2 separate regions of the Homo sapiens genome follow, and region 1 is linked to region 2. Evidence: fine-mapped expression QTL. A gene starts in region 2. The other region holds a variant in brackets. All regions are shown on one strand. Distances are from middle to middle. Region 1 overlaps IQUB (IQ motif and ubiquitin domain containing). Region 2 holds the start of NDUFA5 (NADH:ubiquinone oxidoreductase subunit A5).

Region 1 (9,436 bases), 85 kb before region 2:
TTCTTGGTATATCTTTGCTTGATTTTGACAGTAAATGGAAGTCTGGTAGCCTCAGACTGAGAAAAGCATAGTGACCTGTGGTTCAGACCTCTCAAGATGCAAGTCACTCCAAAAAGTGGGTCACCTGGACCAGTCAAGATGCTAGTTCAGGGAGAAGGAAATCTAAAATAGATAGTAGAGGAAGGAAACAGTGAGTATCTCTTGTGGCCTTAAAGCCAATGACTACACTAGGGGCTGCAGTTTTTCTTAACCTTGCTTTGGGGCCTATCTAAATCCAGAGGAGCTAATCCTGAAACCTACAACATGAAGTGGATCCAGGCAGCAGCGTGTGTATTCTCCCCATCCTGGCAGATTGGTGGCTGACAACTCTCAAGCGAGGCTCTTCCTGAGAATTGCTCTCTATTAAAGAAAGTTATCTCATCCAAAGCTATGCCCTTCTGGGGCAGCCCATCCAATACGTGGTCAAAATTGTCCTGGCCCCTTGCCTAAATTCAGGACAACTCTGGATGGCCTTTCCAGTTTTAGAATTCCCCGTGACACTGGCTGAAGTCATTGTTCAGAATCCACCACAATTTAATTTCTCTATCCTCCCGATTCTGATTTCTCTACTGCCTCACAGGAATTATCCTGATAGCACTCTCCAACAAACTTCCTGAATATAAACCCCATCTCTGAGTTTGTTTCTTGTTTCTTGGGAAAATTTGATCTGTGACATCCACTAACTTTGTTTTCATTAAAAGTAGGATTAAGAACACAGAAAATCAATAATTGATGAGAAAAAAGATAAAAATACAATGGTGCTGCTTTAAAACTGCTAAAAATCAATTTTTCACTGAAAAATGTCAAAATATGTAGATTATAATTGCTGTTTATGTAATTACTAATCTCATGCTATACTGCATATATTTGCATTCATTGCATAAAGATATATTTACATTCATTATATTTACATTTATTATGTATTATATTTTGAGAACTTTTAGGTAAATATTAATGCATAAACCACATCCTTCCCAAATTATACCAAAACAATTCTTAATGTAAAACACTTTACTTGTTTTAGTATTTCATTAATTTTTTTTTATTGACAGTGAACTCTACCCCCAAACTAAGAGAAAGTTAACATACCTTTACAGTGTGTTTAAGAGTTAACAGCACATCCAGCCTCTCATCTTGGGAGATATTTTTCAGCATAATGCACTTATAGATATTTTGCAGCTCTCTGGCTCTGATGGTGAACTGCGTATCCATCTCAATTGTTTTGCCATTAGGGGTTCTCCATATTTTTGGAGCTGAACACTTAAAAATAATATTATGTTTATAATTATCAGTTAATTAGAAACTACGTATAACAATTTTGCTCCTTCTACTAAAAGTCTACCTTAATATCATGTGCTTTATAACTAAAGTATTGCTAAAGCTTATGAAAATTAATTTAAGAATTTGCAGATCAGGCAAAAGTAAAATATTTTAGAAAAAAACAAATAAGAATGACAGTTATTCAGTCTGTAGAAGTTCATACACTTCTACAATATTCAGGATTTGCTACTAGTTTTTTATGTTGAATTGTTTGAGAGATGTATGGAATTACTCATTAACCCCATGAGGACAATTATTTGCTTGGTTCAATTATATTGAGTGTATATAAATATGTCTTGATCCTGCCTTGCCAATTGAATATAACTTTTGTAGAGTAATTATGACAATCCTCAATATATTTAGACCTAAAGATATACCAAAAAGGGACTCTGTGAGTTATGGTTTAATGTCCTATAAAAATACTTCTATAAGAAGTTCAAAATTCTTCTCAAAGCAGATGTCCATAGTGAAAGAGCTATATTGCTATCTTAACTGTGCTGGGCTGTGGTTCCTGCCTCCCTGATGCTGGCTAAGATTCTCACTTCCTATTTCCAAATCTGGCTTGGTGCCTCCCAACCTAGCCCACCTCCTAAATGAAGGGCCAAAAATGAAGTTCACTTGCCCTGAAGCTCATCTGAGGACTCCCAGGCTAAGAATTCAGAGATTAGAGACAGGAGGTGAAATTAGTCCTCTACCGACTCAGGAAACAGGATAATCTTTAATGATGATACCTCTGTGTTTGCCACTGCTTCTGTTCCCTCTGACAGGGACATTTAGAGGAGATGCATTCACCCAGAAATTTCACAGTGAACACTTACTGTCTATTAGCTCTTCCACTTTAGGGTACAAAGCTGCTCAGTTTCTTTCCCTAATGATAATTTTTCAGAAACAAGACTATGTTGATCATGACAATTCTTCAAAAACATGTTGGATGTTTTTGTAGGTTAACTGTAATTGCTCTGGTGTCCTTGTAATACAATTTACACCATACTTGCAAACATTTAAATCTTAGATGTGATCTAATGTAAGGTTTAAATGGAAGCTCTATGTATTGGAACAGATCATCAGGAATATGGACTAACCAAATAGAGACATTATATAAAACTGTATTTAGAATGACAGTAGGCTGGGTGCAGTGGCTCACGCCTGTAATCCCAGCCACTTTGGGAGGCCGAGGCGGGCAGATCACGAGGTCAGGAGATCGAGACCATCCTGGCTAACACGGTGAAACCCCGTCTCTACTAAAACTACAAAAAATTAGCCGGGCGTGGTGACGGACACCTGTAGTCCCAGCTACTCGGGAGGCTGAGGCAGGAGAATGGCATGAACCTGGGAGGCGGAGCTTGCAGTGAGCCGAGATCGCGCCACTGCACTCCAGCCTGGGTGACAGAGCAAGACTCTGTCTCAAAAAAAAAAAAGAAAAAAGAAAAAAACAATGACAGTATCAGGAGGGAATTTTAGTTGTAACATCAATTTACAACTAATTTTTTATATTTCACATTAGCTAAATCACATTGAGAACTGCAAAGCTACCTCTTAAAAACAACTATATTTGATATATTCTCAAAGTAATGGCATCATATTCAGATCAAAGCCAAAATGAATGTTATTCAGAGGTAGGAATCTTCATCAGAAACTTTAGATTCTCAGCTCCAGTTTCAATCCAGTAAATGAGAAGCTGCAGCCCTATAATTAATTTAAATTGTTACAGCATAAATTCAATATTAAATAATGTATTATTATCAGACCGATATAATTAAGATTGATTAAAAGCTTATAAGGAAAATAGCTCAATAATAAAATATTTTATCATTCAATTCTCATCACTTAGGAATAAAATAATTTTTAAATGCATATAGCCTTATTTTGGGTAGGCCTCAGAGTGTTACTGAAGTTTGATGCTTATTTTAAAGCTCTTTTTAAAAAGTTTTTAAAGGCTAGGGCTAAGTTTCATGCTGTAATATTCTAAAGTCTAACCAATGTCTTAATCTTTGCATACAATTTTCCTCAGGTTTGCTGTATTAAATGCAATTGCTTTTCTTCCAGTAATTTGGACAACACCTTTTGATCTGCATGGTGGTAAATTATTTCATTTGTAATAATTCAAATACAATAACCTTTTTATGAAACACCTACTTTACCTATCACATTGTATTTTTCAGTTGATAGACTGATTTAACTCTGTTT[T/TCC]CCCCCCCAAGTTTTTAGCCTAACAAATATAGCATAATGTGGTTAGATCTTGGTTTCCAAATACATTCTTCATCTAAGTCCTTTCCACCTTTCCATTTTGAACTCAAACCCTACCTCTTCCATAAAGATTCCTCTAACTACTATAGTTTGAAACAATTATATCACTTGTATGTGAAATCCTATTGCACTTGTAAAAACACACAAGTATACAATGTCTCTATTTCAGTGACTACAGGCAATGAAATTTGGATCCAAATTACTTTATAATTGTTTTATGTTTGCTAACTCCATTTCTCCCAAAAGAGTATGAGAAATAAATTTCTCGGCCGGACACGGTGGCTCACACCTGTAATTTCAGCACTTTGGGAGGCCAAGGCGGGCAGATTACTTGAGGTCAGAAGTTCGAGAACAGCCTGGCCAACACGGTGATAACTCATCTCTACTAAAAACACAAAATTTAGCTGAGTGCGGTGGCACTCACCTGTAATCCCAGCTACTTGTGAGGCTGAGGCAGGAGAATTGCTTCAACCCAGGAGGTGGAAGTTGCAGTGCACCAAGTCTGCACCACTGCACTCCAGCCTGGGCAACAGTGCAAGACCCCAACTCAAAAAAAAAAAGAAAAAAGAAAAGAAAAGGAAAGAAATAAAGAAAGAAAGAGAAAGAAATTTCTCATGTAGTTCTATATATCTCACAGTGTCTACAATACTCTTTCATTCATTCAACAAATATTTACTGTGTTTACTATACATTAATCAATGTATTAGGCACTGAGTAGATAAAATACTATCCTGGTTTCAAGAACTCTCAAATCTCATGGGATGGAAGGGTAAGAAAATGAGTAATTAGAAAAAAAGATGAGTACGCTTGATGACTGTAGATAAATAGGTAACTATGGGTTGCTATGAAGCACTTAACTGGTAAAAAGAAAGTATCTAAGATGAAATCTGAAGAATAACTAGGAGTTAGCCAGATTAAAGGGAACCGAGTGATACAATCAAAGAATCCTAGATTTGAAGTTCAAGTTCCCTAGAGCTGGCACTGAAAAGATATTAAAAAATCTGTTCAGCAAAGCTGTTTTTATACTTAGATGTATTTCTGCCAACACAGATAACTTGATCTTCAAGCCTAGGCTTTTTTGATTTCAGGGCTTAAGGTGTTTTTAACTCTGACGCAGGAAAAATGTCAACTTTGCTTATTTCTCTTCCTTATTTCCTTTTTTCTTTGAAAGCTTTGGCTGTGATAACAGATATACAACAATCATGTACTTAAATTGCTTCAGAAAATAGGAGCATAATAAATTCCATTTAGCTGCCAACAAAAGAGACAGCACAGACCCTGGAAGAGAGAAACAGAAGAACAGCAGGAAGACACATTTCAGGGAAAGGAAGGTGGAGAAATAACAAGAACCTGGAGAGCAGCAGGCTTCCACAAAAAAGAAGAAATGACTGCACTAGGAAAGTAGATATTTTCTTCCTCTTAAATTAATTATCAAGCCCCTAAGGACACAAATTAAGAATAGCCCTAACTCCCCGCAGAAGCTACTATATAGTGATCAACCTTTCTTTTACACAGCACAGGGGTTTTGCTCAGCCATAGCAGCACTCTTATTTCATGCAGAGTTCAGAAAGAGGCCATGGCACTTTCCTGCCCCATTAACTGTTAGCTACCTGGGTATGGAGAAAAAGCATTTAAAAGACACAGCTAACATGGATTGCAGTTCTTTAAGCCTGCAATTGTGAATAGTGTACAAATCAACAGGCATCAAATAAATAAATGGCCTTGACTCAAGGAAAAACATCTTACAGAAATTCAAATGGTCTCTACAGAGTTTGGGTAAATAAACCCAAAGATATATTAGAAACCAGCTGATGATTTTTGATTCAAACTTCTTGACCTGAATTTCTTCACCTCTGTCAAGCTTTGTGAGTTCTTTTGTTTTTTTGTTTTTTGTTTTTTGTTTTTCTGATGGAGTCTCACTCTGTTGCCCAGGCTGGAGTGCAATGGTGCAATCTCGGCTCACTGCAGCTTCCACCTCCCGGGTTCAAGTGATTCTCCTGCCTCAGCCTCCCGAGTAGCTGGGATTACAGGCACCCGCCACAATGCCCGGCTAATTTTTTTTTTTTTTTTGTATTTTTAGTAGAGACATGGTTTTACCATGTTGGTCAGGCTGGTCTCAAACTCCTGACCTCGCGATCCACCTGCGTTGGCCTCCCAAAGTGCTGGGATTACAGGCGTGAGCCACCATGCCCAGCCAAGTTTTTAATATTTGATACTCTGTGGAAGTCAATATTTGGTGACTTAAAATTACTAATTATTTAATGCTTTAAAAATCTTTAGAGTTAGCCTTTTATTAAGAATGAGGACTTAGTATAGAGCCTATTATAATCTATTAGTTCAATGCTTTGACTGGACAAATTTAAGACTGTATAATTCATTATTCAGAGACATTCTATGTTCAGGAAAAAAGGATTAAAAATAAAATATTGTTTCAATAAACCACACAGTATTTGGACTCAAAAAAGTGAAACTGAAACTAAAATATAAAATTGTATTCTCCAAAGTTATTTCCAAATTAAAGGAAAGTAAATGTTTCTCTGGATGTATCTGTATATTGTGGTGTTAAATGAAGATCTTCAAATTCACATATGGCACTGGTTGTTTGTTAATTTTGACATCTGAAAAAACTCTGACCTTGTCTACTTGCAGGGATTAATTATAAGCTATCTTTTCTTAAAAATCAAAAACTTTAGAATAATAAGTTACTTCATTCAAGTTTTATGAAATCAACACTGACTCCTCCTGAATATTAGAGATAATACTAGGCTTGGGGGTGGGGGAGGTTGACAAGCATAGAGAAAAACAGACATTTTATAAGTATTCACATCAAAAGACTAAAATTTATCTTAATCGTCTTCTTAGTATAGAATCATATACAAAAAGGTGATTTAAATGATTCTGAATTAGAGTAACAGTGAGTTTTTAATTCACTATAGCAGGCTAAAAGCAGGCCAGAAGTCACTGTTAGTCAACATTTTTAAACACTGGACTAATTAGGCTATGTGCACTGACTGGGAGTTATCGTCAAGTGTAGCTGATCCATATTGTGGTGTGTTCTTCCTGTCCTAATACAAGTCTTTAGTCAAAACTGAAGGAAAGTCCCATTGTATCAACTAAAATGTCAATTTCCTTTAAAATTTAGCCTGGAGATTGATGAGATTAACTGGTTTATCAGCTGGGGTAACTGTGGGTTTAGAACTCCAATTCTAAAACATGTGACCCACAAAACACCTCTGCCTTGATTTCTACAAATTCTTGTGGCTAACTTCATCCTTCCCTCAATTCTCTGCCTTTCACCTTTGTGTGTTACCCTGTATCCATCTGGACATGGAGCCCAGCTTATTTATCTGGTTTCCTCTCCCTTTCCAAAAATAAAATTATGTTGCGTTTAATATTTCCTTTATTTAGTCACATAACTAAAGAAGTCACAAAAAGTCACACTGTACACCCACTGCCTTCCAATTCTCTCCTCACTTTACCTTATCTAGTTCCCTCTAGAACAACTCTTGAAAACTTCCATTTTCCTGGAACAGAACAATTCTTTCTGTACTCAGGATCCTTCAGAGTCTCAAATTCCACCCCAACAGCTTATCAAAGTATTTACAAAAAAACAAACACAAAAAAATAGATCTTCCTTCCTCCTAGGAATTCTGGTAAACAGAATTTTAAAATTTCTCCATTTCACTTTTTTTTTTTTTTTTTTTTTGGTGAGATTTACATGAAGACCATCTTAGAGTGCCACACCTCATGAGAAAGGGTAGTGGTCATCAACTGACTCTGGAATCACTTTCATATGTTGGGCCTTGATCCATTTATGGATACTCCATAATTTCAAGAAGTTTAGTTAAATGTTTACAGACAATGCTAGACATGGGGACTGGGGTAGGGAATGTTCTGGGCATAAAGAAGAATAGATATTGTGTAAGTATATACAACAATAGAATTTTAAATAGTTTGCAGGAAATAGAAAACAGTATGATGGCACTAGTGGGAAAATTCTACAGAAGGCTCAGCATCAAATAAAGAAAGGTGACACCCATCTTCCCTGTCCATGGACACTCAGAGGCTTCCAGCTCCTTTGAATATTTGTGTTGCCCTGGGCCCATACTCTCTTCTCTGGTGAGGTTAACAATTAAGTATCCCAGTGATGAAGCAGGATGCAAGGTAAAGCAATTTGCTAAACAAATAGGTTTATTTCAAAAGATGACTCCAGAGAAGTATGAATATTATAGCTTTCCTACAGTAAATTCATCTTTCCTAGAATTAATATATTTAAGCATTTAAAATGACAGTATCTACATTACATAATTTCTTGATGATACTTGGAATACAAAATTATACAACCACTATTTCTGTCCCTTATTCTTCCTCCCTACCTTCTTCCACAAACATTTATTGACACTGTGGTAAGAACTGTGCTAAGATATGAGGATACAGAGATAAATGACAACTCTTTCCTTTAAAGGTTCAAAATCTGGAAAGAATTCAGGCATGTAGGTACAATAAAGATTGCATACTATGTACAAAGACAGAGATGAGACAGTCTCATGAGAGCATATACTACAGGCTAGAGTAGGTGGACCAGCATTTGCTTTCTGGAAGAAGAGGCATCTGAGCTTGTTTCAGGGTCAATAGCTAGCTACTGAGGAAGGAAGGAAAGGATGTTCCATGTAAAGGCACCCAATGCAAAAGGATCGAGAGCACCTGGTCTTTCTGGGATATGCAAGTAATCAAGCATGGCTGAAGCAGTGTGGGTATAGTATTCAGGGAGAGATGGCAGTGATACAACAGTGAGATAAGTGAGGTTTGCAAACATGAAAATCCTTGTTCCCTAAGGGCAGTGAGGAAGGACAGGGTCAGAGTTGTGTTTAGTGAGGCCACTTTGGCAGTGATATAGATAATGGAGGAGAGAATTGAGACGTGAAACTGGAGGCAGCAGCTCAATTTGGAAACATAAAGAAATCCAGATGAGAAGAAAATCCAGATTCAATTATGTCAGGGTCGAGCTCATGCATACAAGATAAGGCAAGACCTGTCTCATGACATCCTCCCAGGGGAGATAGGAAGGCCTATTTGATATATGCAGAGTCATCAGGACACCAGGGCAGAGCTTTTTCCCTACAGGCAATGGTAGTGGGTTTGGAAAGGAAGAAGTAAAGAATTAAGGAGGTATTAGGAATCCAACTTACAAGGGATGTAAAGGACCTCTTCAAGGAGAACTACAAACCACTGCTCAATGAAATAAAAGAGGACACAAACAAATGGAAGAACATGCCATGCTCATGGATAGGAAGAATCAATATCATGAAAATGGCCATACTACCCAAGGTAATTTATCGATTCAATGCCATCCCCATCAAGCTACCAATGACTTTCTTCACAGAATTGGAAAAAAACTACTTTAAAGTTCATGTGGAAGCAAAAGAGAGCCCGCATTACCAAGACAATCCTAAGCAAAGAGAACAAAGCTGGAGGCATTATGCTACCTGACTTCAAACTATACTACAAGGCTACAGTAACCAAAACAGCATGGTACTGGTATCAAAACAGAGAGATAGACCAATGGAACAAAACAGAGGCCTCAGAAATAACACGACACATCCACAACTATCTGATCTTTGACAAACCTGACAAAAACAAGAAATGGGGAAAGGATTCCCTATTTAATAAATGGTGCTGGGAAAACTGGCTAGCCATATGGAGAAAGCTGAAACTGGATCCCTTCCTTACACACCTTATACAAAAATTAATTCAAGATGGATTAAAGACTTAAACGTTAGACCTAAAACCATAAAAACCCTAGGAGAAAACCTAGGCAATACCATTCAGGACA
Region 2 (9,436 bases):
GCTCCTCTTTTGCTGACTTGCCAATAGCTTTCTTGCAATGTATTTTCATACTTTCTCTAATAAATCTGCCTTTCTTTACCTCAAATGTCTTGGTAAATTATTTTTACCACCACGCAACACCAGCCCCAGACAGTCGCTACCCGCGAAAAAATATACTCAGTACTTCCATGTACAATACCACACTGTTTGCGTATAAAGATAGACTGGACATGGATCACACTCCAATATGTTTAAGGTACTATCGAGTGTACTTATCTGTTCTCATGCTGCTAATAGAGACATACCTGAGACTGGGTGATTTATAAAGGAAAAGAAGTTTAATGAACTTACAGTTCCACATGGCTGGAGAGGCCTCACAATCATGGCAGAAGATGAAAGAGGGGCAAAGGCTTGTCTTACATGGCAGGAAGCAAGAGAGCATGTGCAGGGGACCTGCCCTTTATAAAACCATCAGATCTCACGAGACTTCTTCACTATCACAAGAACAGCATGGGAAAAACCCACCCCATGATTCAATTACCTCCCACCAGGTTCCTCTCCCACGACACATGGGGATTATGGGAGCTACAATTCAAGATGAGATTTGGATGGGGACAGAGCTAAACCATATCACAGGGTAAGCTACAGAAGAGGAAAAATAATAAAAATGATAAAAAGAAAAAATAAGTGTGTGTTTGGCAGGGATGGGGAAATACATAGAGCAAAGAGATATTATAATACTTAGCAACGGTTAAGGGTGTGCTAACCAGAACATAACTGCTTGAGTTTACACTGGCTCCACTCCTTAGGTGCACTGGACAAGTTATTTCCATCTCTGTGCCTTCATCCCTCATCTGTAAGATGGGAATAATACTGCCTCATAGGGTATATACAACTTAGAACAGTACCTGGTACACATTAAGTTTCACTAAGTATTAGCATTATTTTTCTATAGCAGAAGAAGAATTCACTTCAGCTGAGACCAGAGAAGCATTCATATTTCAAAAAGGTGGCATCTAAGATAGACCCAGAGGGATGGTAGATCATAGAAACTTAAATGATATTGGAAAAGGCAATTACATACAGAATACATAGAACTGAATGGCAGAAAATACAGCAAACATAAGGAAGTGGTATATAGTTCTATTTTCTTGAACTGTGCTGTCTAAAACAGTAGATGCTAGCTAAATATGGCTACTGAGCATTTGATATGTGGCTAGTCCAAACTGAGATGTGTTATAAGTATAAATACATACCAGAGTTGGAAAATTTAGTATGAAGAAAAACACTATAAAATACCATTAATTTTTTTATTATATACTGAAATGGCAATATTTTAGATTTGTTAGGGTAAATAAAATAATTAAATTTTACCTTTTTCTTCATTAAAAAATTAGTCCTAGAAAATTTTAAATTACATACAAATATGGCTTACATTTAAGGCTCGCATTATGTTTTTAATGGCCAGCACTTGGTTAGAATACAGTAGCTCCCCTTTACCCATCCGTGGTTTCATTTTCCAAGGTTTCAGTTACTAATAGTCAACCTCAGTCAGAAAATATTAAATGAAAAATTCCAGAAATAAACAATTTATAAGTTTTAAACTATGTGCCGTTCAAAGTAGTGTGGTGAAATCTCACACTATCCCACTCTATCCTTTCTTCATCACAAGAGGGTGGTACAGTACAGTAAGATATTTTGAGACAAAGAGACCACATTCACATAACTTTTATTACAGTATATTGTTATAATTGTTCTATTTTATTAGTTGTTATCTCTTTTTTTTTTTTTTCTTTTTTGAGACAGGGTCTCACTCCATCACCCAGGCTAGAGTGTAATGGCATCATCACAGCTCACTGCAGCCTCAACCTCTGGGGCTCAAGCAATCCTGCTGCCTCTGCCTCCCGAGTAGCTGGGACTAGGTGCACACCACCACACCTGATTAATTTCCACATTTTTTGTAGAGACGGGGTTTTGCCATGTTGGCCAGGCTGGTCTTAAACTCCTGGGCTAAAGCAATCCACCCGCCTCAGCCTCCCAAAGTGCTGGGATTACAGGCGTGAGCCAGCACGTCCAGCCTGCTTATCTCTTATTGTGCCTAATTCATAAATTAAACTTTATTATAGGTATGTATGAAACAAAACATAGCATATATACAGTTTGGTACTATATGTGGTTTTCAGACATCCACTGGGGATTTTGGAATATACTGCTGTACAGGACACATAAGGAAATGCATAGGAGATAAAGTTAGAGAAAATGTCACATTATAAGTGGTTCTGCATTCCAAGTTAAAGCATTCGGGCTTTATTCTGTGGACAATTAAAAGATTTAGGAAAATCATATGATTAGATTAGGAAAATTAGCTTCATTGTAGTGAGTTAAAAGGACTGAAGGAGAAACAAGGCAGAAAGGCCAGTAAGGAGGTTGTTGCAATTCTCTAAACAAGAACAAGGACCTGAACTATGGTAGTAACAATAGAAATAGTAAACAGAAGTCAGACTGGAGAGCTGTTATAGAAAAGGATCAGCAAAAAAAATAAAAATAAAAATCATCATTGGAATGAATATGAGAGTACAAGTATAAGAGAAATACCAACTATGATGTCCAAATTCCCAGCCTAGGGAGTAGAAAGATCTGAAACTATCAAGAAAAATACAGCCCACAGAGGAAGAAATATATTTAGAAGGGAAAAACCATGAGTTCAGTTCTTTACATCAATGACAATAAAGTTATTATGAAATCATAGGAAGTGCAAGACACTCATTCAACTAACACTATTTACTGAGCACATACTATGTGACAGAGTTCTAGCAGTGAAACAATTACAAATCCCTGCCTTCATGAAACCTACATTCTAGTAGAGACATAACAAAATAAATCAGTAGAATAGTGAACCAGAGGGTCACAGTAAGAAACTTGTCTTTATTTAGAGTGAAATGGAAAGCCATTAGTTTTAAGGAAAGGAGAGATCTGACCTACCTCATATTTTAACAGACTAACTCTAGTAGCCTGGCTGGAAAAAAAGACCAAATGGAGGCTGTGACAAGCATTGAGAGGCAGTTAAGAAGTGAATGCAATTATCCACATCAGTGATGATGGTGACTGAGGAAGAGGGTAGTAGCAGAGGAGGTAGTGAGATGTTGTCAAAATCAAGATATATTTTGAAGGTGGAACCTAGAGGGTTTACTGAAATAACAAATGTGGAGTGTAAGAGAAAGGAAGGAATCAAAGATGATTTCAAGTTTCTGACCTGAGTCAAAATAATTGAGCTGCCATTAATTGAGATGAGCAAGACTGAGAGAAGAGCAGGTTTTAGGCAGAAGATCAGGAACCCCATTTTGGACATGTTAAGTTTGGGTTGCCTGTCTGACACATACAAATAGAGATGCCCACTAAGCAATTAAATATTCAGGACTTTTATAAAGGAAGAGGTCAGTGCTTTACATGGAAATCTGTTGTCAGTGTATAGGTGGTATTTAAAACCGTTCTCTATTTGGATTTGCTCTCTCTTGGTGACAGAGTACAGGTCCAAAAGAAAAGGTCCAAGAACTAAATCCTGACTAACTCAAATTTTAAAAGTGGGCATAAGAGAAATAACCAGAAAAAGAGAAAGCCAAAGAGTAGGGGGAAAAAATCAGGAGACTGGGGGAGTCCTGAAGCCCAGTAAAGAAAGCGCATGATGGAAAAAGTGTCAAATGTGTCAAAAAAAAAAAAACGCTGCTATTAGGTCAATGAAGGTGAGAAACATAAGCTGACCATTGGATTTGGCAACATGGAGATAACTGGTGAACTTGAAAAGAGCGTGATGGAAAAAGTGTCAAATGTGTCAAAAAACGCTGCTATTAGGTCAATGAAGGTGAGAAATATGAGCTGACCATTGGATTTGGCAGCATGGAGATAATTGGTGAACTTGAAAAACGCCAAGGGTGACTGAGTGCATTCAAGGGTGAATAAGAAAGAAATTGGAGAAAATAGAGATAACTCTTTTGAGTTATCTGTAAAGTGAAGCAAAGAAATGGTGTGATTATAGAAGGGACAAGAAGAATAAAAAAATTTTGTGGGTTTTTTTGATGAAAACATTCGTGAATACAGATGGAAAAGACCTAACAGAAGGAAAAGGGGGCAGTACCTTTAGTAAGCCTAAATATATGTAATCCAACGCACCTAAGCAGAAACGGTAAGGCAAGGAGAAAAGATGGAAAACGGAGATATAAATTTGAGATGGCGCTGACAGAAGCAAGCACAAGTGAAGCCATGAAAATGTCAAGGAAAAAGTCAACAAGAAAACTGGCTTAATAAAGAGGTCATGGCAAAAATAAATAAAAATGTGACATCGGATCAACGAAGTAGGTGGACAGCGCCCGTGTCTCAAGAGCTCACGCGGCTTGTAATTAAGGGCTTGAAACATCTGTATCCCGTTAACCCTGCAATAAGCAAAGTGACAGGAATTTAGTCTTCCTTGGGAATTCAAGAACGAAGAAAGAACAAAGGTACATACCTCGTGAGGAGTATTGCACACAGCCAATCCCACAAGGCCAGTGGTCTGTTCAAAAACAAAACACGATTCATGCTGTTTACTACGGTTTCCATACATCCAGCACGCTAAGGAAATACAAAACCACGAATCCCCCGGCTAAAACTGGTCTAAAGCCAGCTACTGGTCTCTCAGTCTCGCTTGTTTGGAGCTTTTTTCCTGACTCTCGGAGCGGAACCACTAACCTGCCCTACCCGGTAAGGCATGCAGAACGAGTCCCCGAAAAGCACCGCCGAGCCCGCGACAGTAGGGGTCAACACCCGCGGGAAGTAGGGCTATCGGACTGAGTCTACCCCCACAGTCTAAATTCCAACAGTGACCTCCATTCGTCTCACCTTCTTCAGCACACCCGCCATGACAGCGCCAACGACTCGGTGACGCACAACCCTTTGGGAACAATTCTCAGACCTGCTCAATCGACCACCGAGGTCGCCACTCTGTCACCCTGGAAACAGCTTAGCTCCACCCCTTCAGGATCGCCAAAGGAGCAAAGACTCTGCCCCGCCCATCTTAAAAGAGAAAAATTGACGCATGCGCGATGGGCATACAAGCCTAAAGCTAAGCTAGAAGACGATTGGGGAAAGAAAGGGTTTCCCAGCTGTCTGTTCCTGTTCCTGCCACTGCTGACGGCTTGCCCAAAGATTGAGGGAAACACTCCCAACTACCAAAAAACTCCAGTCGCTGTAGGAACCTGCACTGTGCTTAACCGTTGATGCATTCCTCAACCTTCCTTTCTCAGTTTAGTAAAATGAAAGTGATAACGGAGCTTGAGCATCCTCTGAATTGATCTCTCAACAGCAAGTTAGTTCTTCGCACAAGGATATCAGTATTCTCTGTGTCTTACGAACCAAAGCCCTATGGAGTGTGAGGTCATTTTCCATCGCTCTTTTCGATTTCACTGGCTGAAATACATCATCTTATTTCCAGATGAAATGATATCAGACCATACCACTTTTTCCTACCTCCACAAACACTGACCACTCACTATGTGTCAGTTACTGGGACATAATTTCTAAAATGGGATTTCACATCCTGGAATTCAAAGAATAATGAAGAAGGCGTGTATTAATAAATAATTTGGTAACTGTTCTAAAAGAAGTTGATGCAAAGTGTGATGGTACCAGGGAAAAGGAAATAACTAAAAAGCGTGGGTGACTTTCTAAAAAGTCAGTAGGAGAAAAGAACAAATTGAGAAAACACAAGTACAAAGGAAAAGAGGTTAAAAATGTATATATAAATTCCAGGTGATTTTATGTGATTGGAAAGGTGGGTTTGATTGTTAAGGTAAACTGGTTAAGATTATGAAAGGTGTTGTTTGCCATTATACAAAATTTGAATTTTACTTTTTAAGGAATGGGAACAATGAGAAGACTTTTAAGCTTCTAAGTGACACCATCAAATTTATGTTTCAGATATACAAACAACTTAGGCAACAGTTGAAGAGAATGAGTTGGAAGAGATGAGGCCTTTCATTAGAGGCATGAGACTAGAAAAAATGAAAGCTAAACCAAAAGCAAACAGAAGAAAGGAAATATTAAAGATTAGAAAAGAAGGAGACAGAATATCAATAAAGAAAATCAATGAAACCAGGAATTGGTTCCCTAAAAGGATCAACAAAATTGGCAAACCTTTAGTGAAACTAAGAAAAAAAAGAGAGAAGATTTAATACAAGCAAGAATAAAAGAACCATCACTAATAGCCTTGCTGAAATAAACAGGAATAAGAAGGAATACTATGAACAACTATGCTTAAAAAAGATAAAGTAGATAAAATGGCCAGATTCCTAGAAAAACACAAACTACCTAAATCAACTCAAGAAGGCATAAAGAAAAATCTGACTAGATCTAACATAATTAAAGAAATTGAATTAGCAAGAAAAAAAAAAAAACCTATCCAGAAGGAAAAGCACAGGTCCAGATGGCTTCGCTGGTAAATTCCACTGAACAATTAAAGAATAACACTTAAGAAACTATTCCAAAATATAGAAGAGGAGGAAACAATTAACAACTAATTCTATAAGGCAAGTATTACTCTGATTCCAACCAGACAAAGAAATCAACAAGAAACAAAAACTTCAGCCAGGTGTGGACTCTGATTCCAACCAGACAAAGAAATCAACAAGAAAAGAAAACTTCGGCTGGGCCTGGTGGCTCATGCCTGTAATCCCAGCACTTTGGGAAGCTGAGGCAGGAGGATCACCTGAGGTCAAGGGTTTGAGACAGCCTGGCCAACATGACAAAACCTTCTCTCTACTAAAAATACAAAAATTAGCCAGGCCTTGTGGTGTGTGCCTGTAATCTCAGCTACTCTGGAGGCTGAGACAGGAGAATCACTCAAACTCAGGAGGCAGAGGTTGCAGTGAGCCAAGATTGGGCCATTGCACTCTAGCCTGGGTGACAGAGCAAGATTCCGTCTCACAAAAAAAAAAAAAAAAAAGGAAAGAAAAAAGAAAATAAAACTTCAGGCCAATATCCCTTATTAATAAACACAAAATACTCAGAAAAGTACTAGCAAACCAAATTCAGTAGCATATGAAAAAAAAATTATACACCACAAATAAATGATATTTATTTCAAAAATACAAAGTTGGTTTAACATCCCCAAATCAATTAATCTAATGTACCATTGAATACAGGACAAAAACTATATGATAATTTTAATAGATGCAGAAAAAGCATTGGACAAATTTCAACATGCTTTCATGATAAAAGCACACAACAAGCTGGGAAAAGAAGAGAAATTTTTCAACCTGATAAAGATGCTTAGAAAAACCCCACAACATCATACTTAAGAGTGAAAGGCAATTCTTTTCTGCTAAGATCATTCACAAGACAAATATTTTTCCACTCTCACCACTTCTATCCAACAATATATTGGAAATATTAGCTAAGGGAATTAGGCAAGAAAATAAAATGAATAAAAGTCATCCAGAAGAGACAGGAAAAAGTAAAACTATCTCTATTCACAGTTGCATAATCTTTTATATAGGATTATTAAGGAATACACACATACATACAATTAAAACAAATAACTTCAGCAAAGTTACATTATACGTGATCTATCAGGGTCAGCTCAGGCTGCCATAACAAAATACTATGGATGAGGTGGCTTAAACAACAGAAATGTATTTCTCACAGTTCTGAAGGCTGATAAGTTTAAGACCAAAGCCAGCAAGACAGATTTCATTCTGAGGCTTTTTCTTTTGGCTTATACTGGTTACCCTCTCATGGTATGCTCATATTTACCTCTTTTCGTGTGTGCTTGGGGTTGGGTCAGGGTGGAGAGCAAGATCTCTGGTGTCCCTTTTTATAAGGCCACTGTTACCATCATGACCTCATCTAAACCTAATTATCTCCCAAAGATTCCATCTCCAAATACCATTTTATTGAGGTTTAGAGCTGTAATATATGAAATCTGGGGGACATAGTCCATAGCAATCAATATACAAAAATATGCTCTAGTCTATTATAGCAATGAATAATCTGAAAATAAATTAAGAAAACAATTCTATTTACCATAGCATCAAAAAGAAATAAATCTAACAAAATAAGTGTAACACTTGTACACTGAAAAGTATTAAATATTGTTGGAAATACTAAAGATCTAAATAAATAGACATTTCTTATTTAATGATTTGAAGTCAATATTGGTCAGATGGCAATACTCAAGTTGATGTAGCGTTTCATCACAATTCCTATCAAAATCCCAGCTTCCTTTTTGCAGAAATTTTTCACAAAAGATTTGTCAGTAGCAGAAGGCACTGTTTGATAACACTTGTCTCACAGAAGAACTCTCAAAATTGGAATCAGTCCTCTCAATTCTGCTGCTGCTTTATCAACCAAATTTATAAAATATTATAAAGACTTTGTTGTCATTTAAACAATATTCACAGTATCTTCACCAGGAGTAGATTCCATCTCAAGAAACCACTTTCTTTGTTCATTCAAGAAGCAACTCATCATCTGATCAAGTTTTATCATGAGATTGCAGCAGTTCAGTCACATCTTCAAGCTCTACTTCTAATTCTGGTTCTCTTGCTGTTTTCCTCACATTTGCAATGGCTTTTTCCACTGATCTTCAACCCCTCAAAGTCATCCATGTGAGTTGGAATCAACTTTTGCTAAACTCCTGTTAATATTGATATTTTGACCTCCTTGCATGAATCACCAATTTTTTTTTTGAGACAGAGTCTCTATTGCCCAGGCTGGAGTGCAGTGGCATGATCTTGGCTCACTGCAACCTCTGCTGCCCCAGTTCAAGCAATTCTCCTGCCTCAGCCTCCCGAGTAGCTGGAATTACAGGCATCTGCCACCGCACCCGGCTAATTTTTGTATTCTTAGTAGAGACGGGGTTTCACCGTCTTGGCCGGGCTGGTCTTGAACTCCTGACCTCATGATCCACCCACCTCAGCCTTCCAAAGTGCTAGGATTACAAGCGTGGCCACCGCACCTGGCCCATGAATCACCAAATCTTTTTAATAGCATCTAGTGTGGTCAGTTCTTTCAAGAAGGTTTTCAATTTATGTTACCCAGATCTGTCAGAGGAATCGGTATTTATGGTAACTATAGCCTTATAAAATGTATTTTTTTAAATAAGACTTGAAAGTGGACATTACTCCTTGACTCGTGGACTGCAGAATGATGACTGCAGCATGTTGTGCGTGAAAACAATGTTAATCTCTTTGTACATCTTCATCCTCAGGGCTCTTGAGTGACCAGGTACATTTTCAATGAGCAGTAATATTTTGAAAGAAATCTTCTTTTTTCTTAGCCCAGACTTTGTTGTTCCATTTATAGAACACAGGCAGACTAGATTTAGCATCATTCTTCAGGGTCCTAGGATTTTCAGGATGGTAAGTGAGCATGGGCTTCAACAGCTGCATAAGCCTGTAACAAGAGAGTTAGCCTGTCTTTTGAAGCT

Evidence for each region. PIP is the estimated chance that this variant, and not a neighbour inherited with it, causes the effect. A credible set is the group of variants that fine-mapping cannot tell apart.
Region 1: its variant is the best candidate, but not a certain one, in a credible set for the expression of NDUFA5 in gastroesophageal junction (GTEx, PIP 0.63).

The regions. Positions count from the first base shown.
Region 1 is chr7:123,468,086-123,477,521 of GRCh38, forward strand. IQUB (IQ motif and ubiquitin domain containing) reads right to left here. Exons shown (of 13, transcript NM_178827.5): 9 at 1,129-1,299. Among named protein-coding and RNA genes, the nearest start is that of IQUB, 62 kb to the right of the region's middle. The variant T/TCC (reference allele first, on the strand shown) is at 3,547.
Region 2 is chr7:123,552,924-123,562,359 of GRCh38, forward strand. NDUFA5 (NADH:ubiquinone oxidoreductase subunit A5) reads right to left here and starts at 4,895. Exons shown (of 5, transcript NM_005000.5): 1 at 4,852-4,895; 2 at 4,481-4,525. The coding sequence starts at 4,872. RefSeq lists enhancers at 4,025-4,603, 4,168-5,367, 4,604-5,182, 4,923-4,972, 5,233-5,372.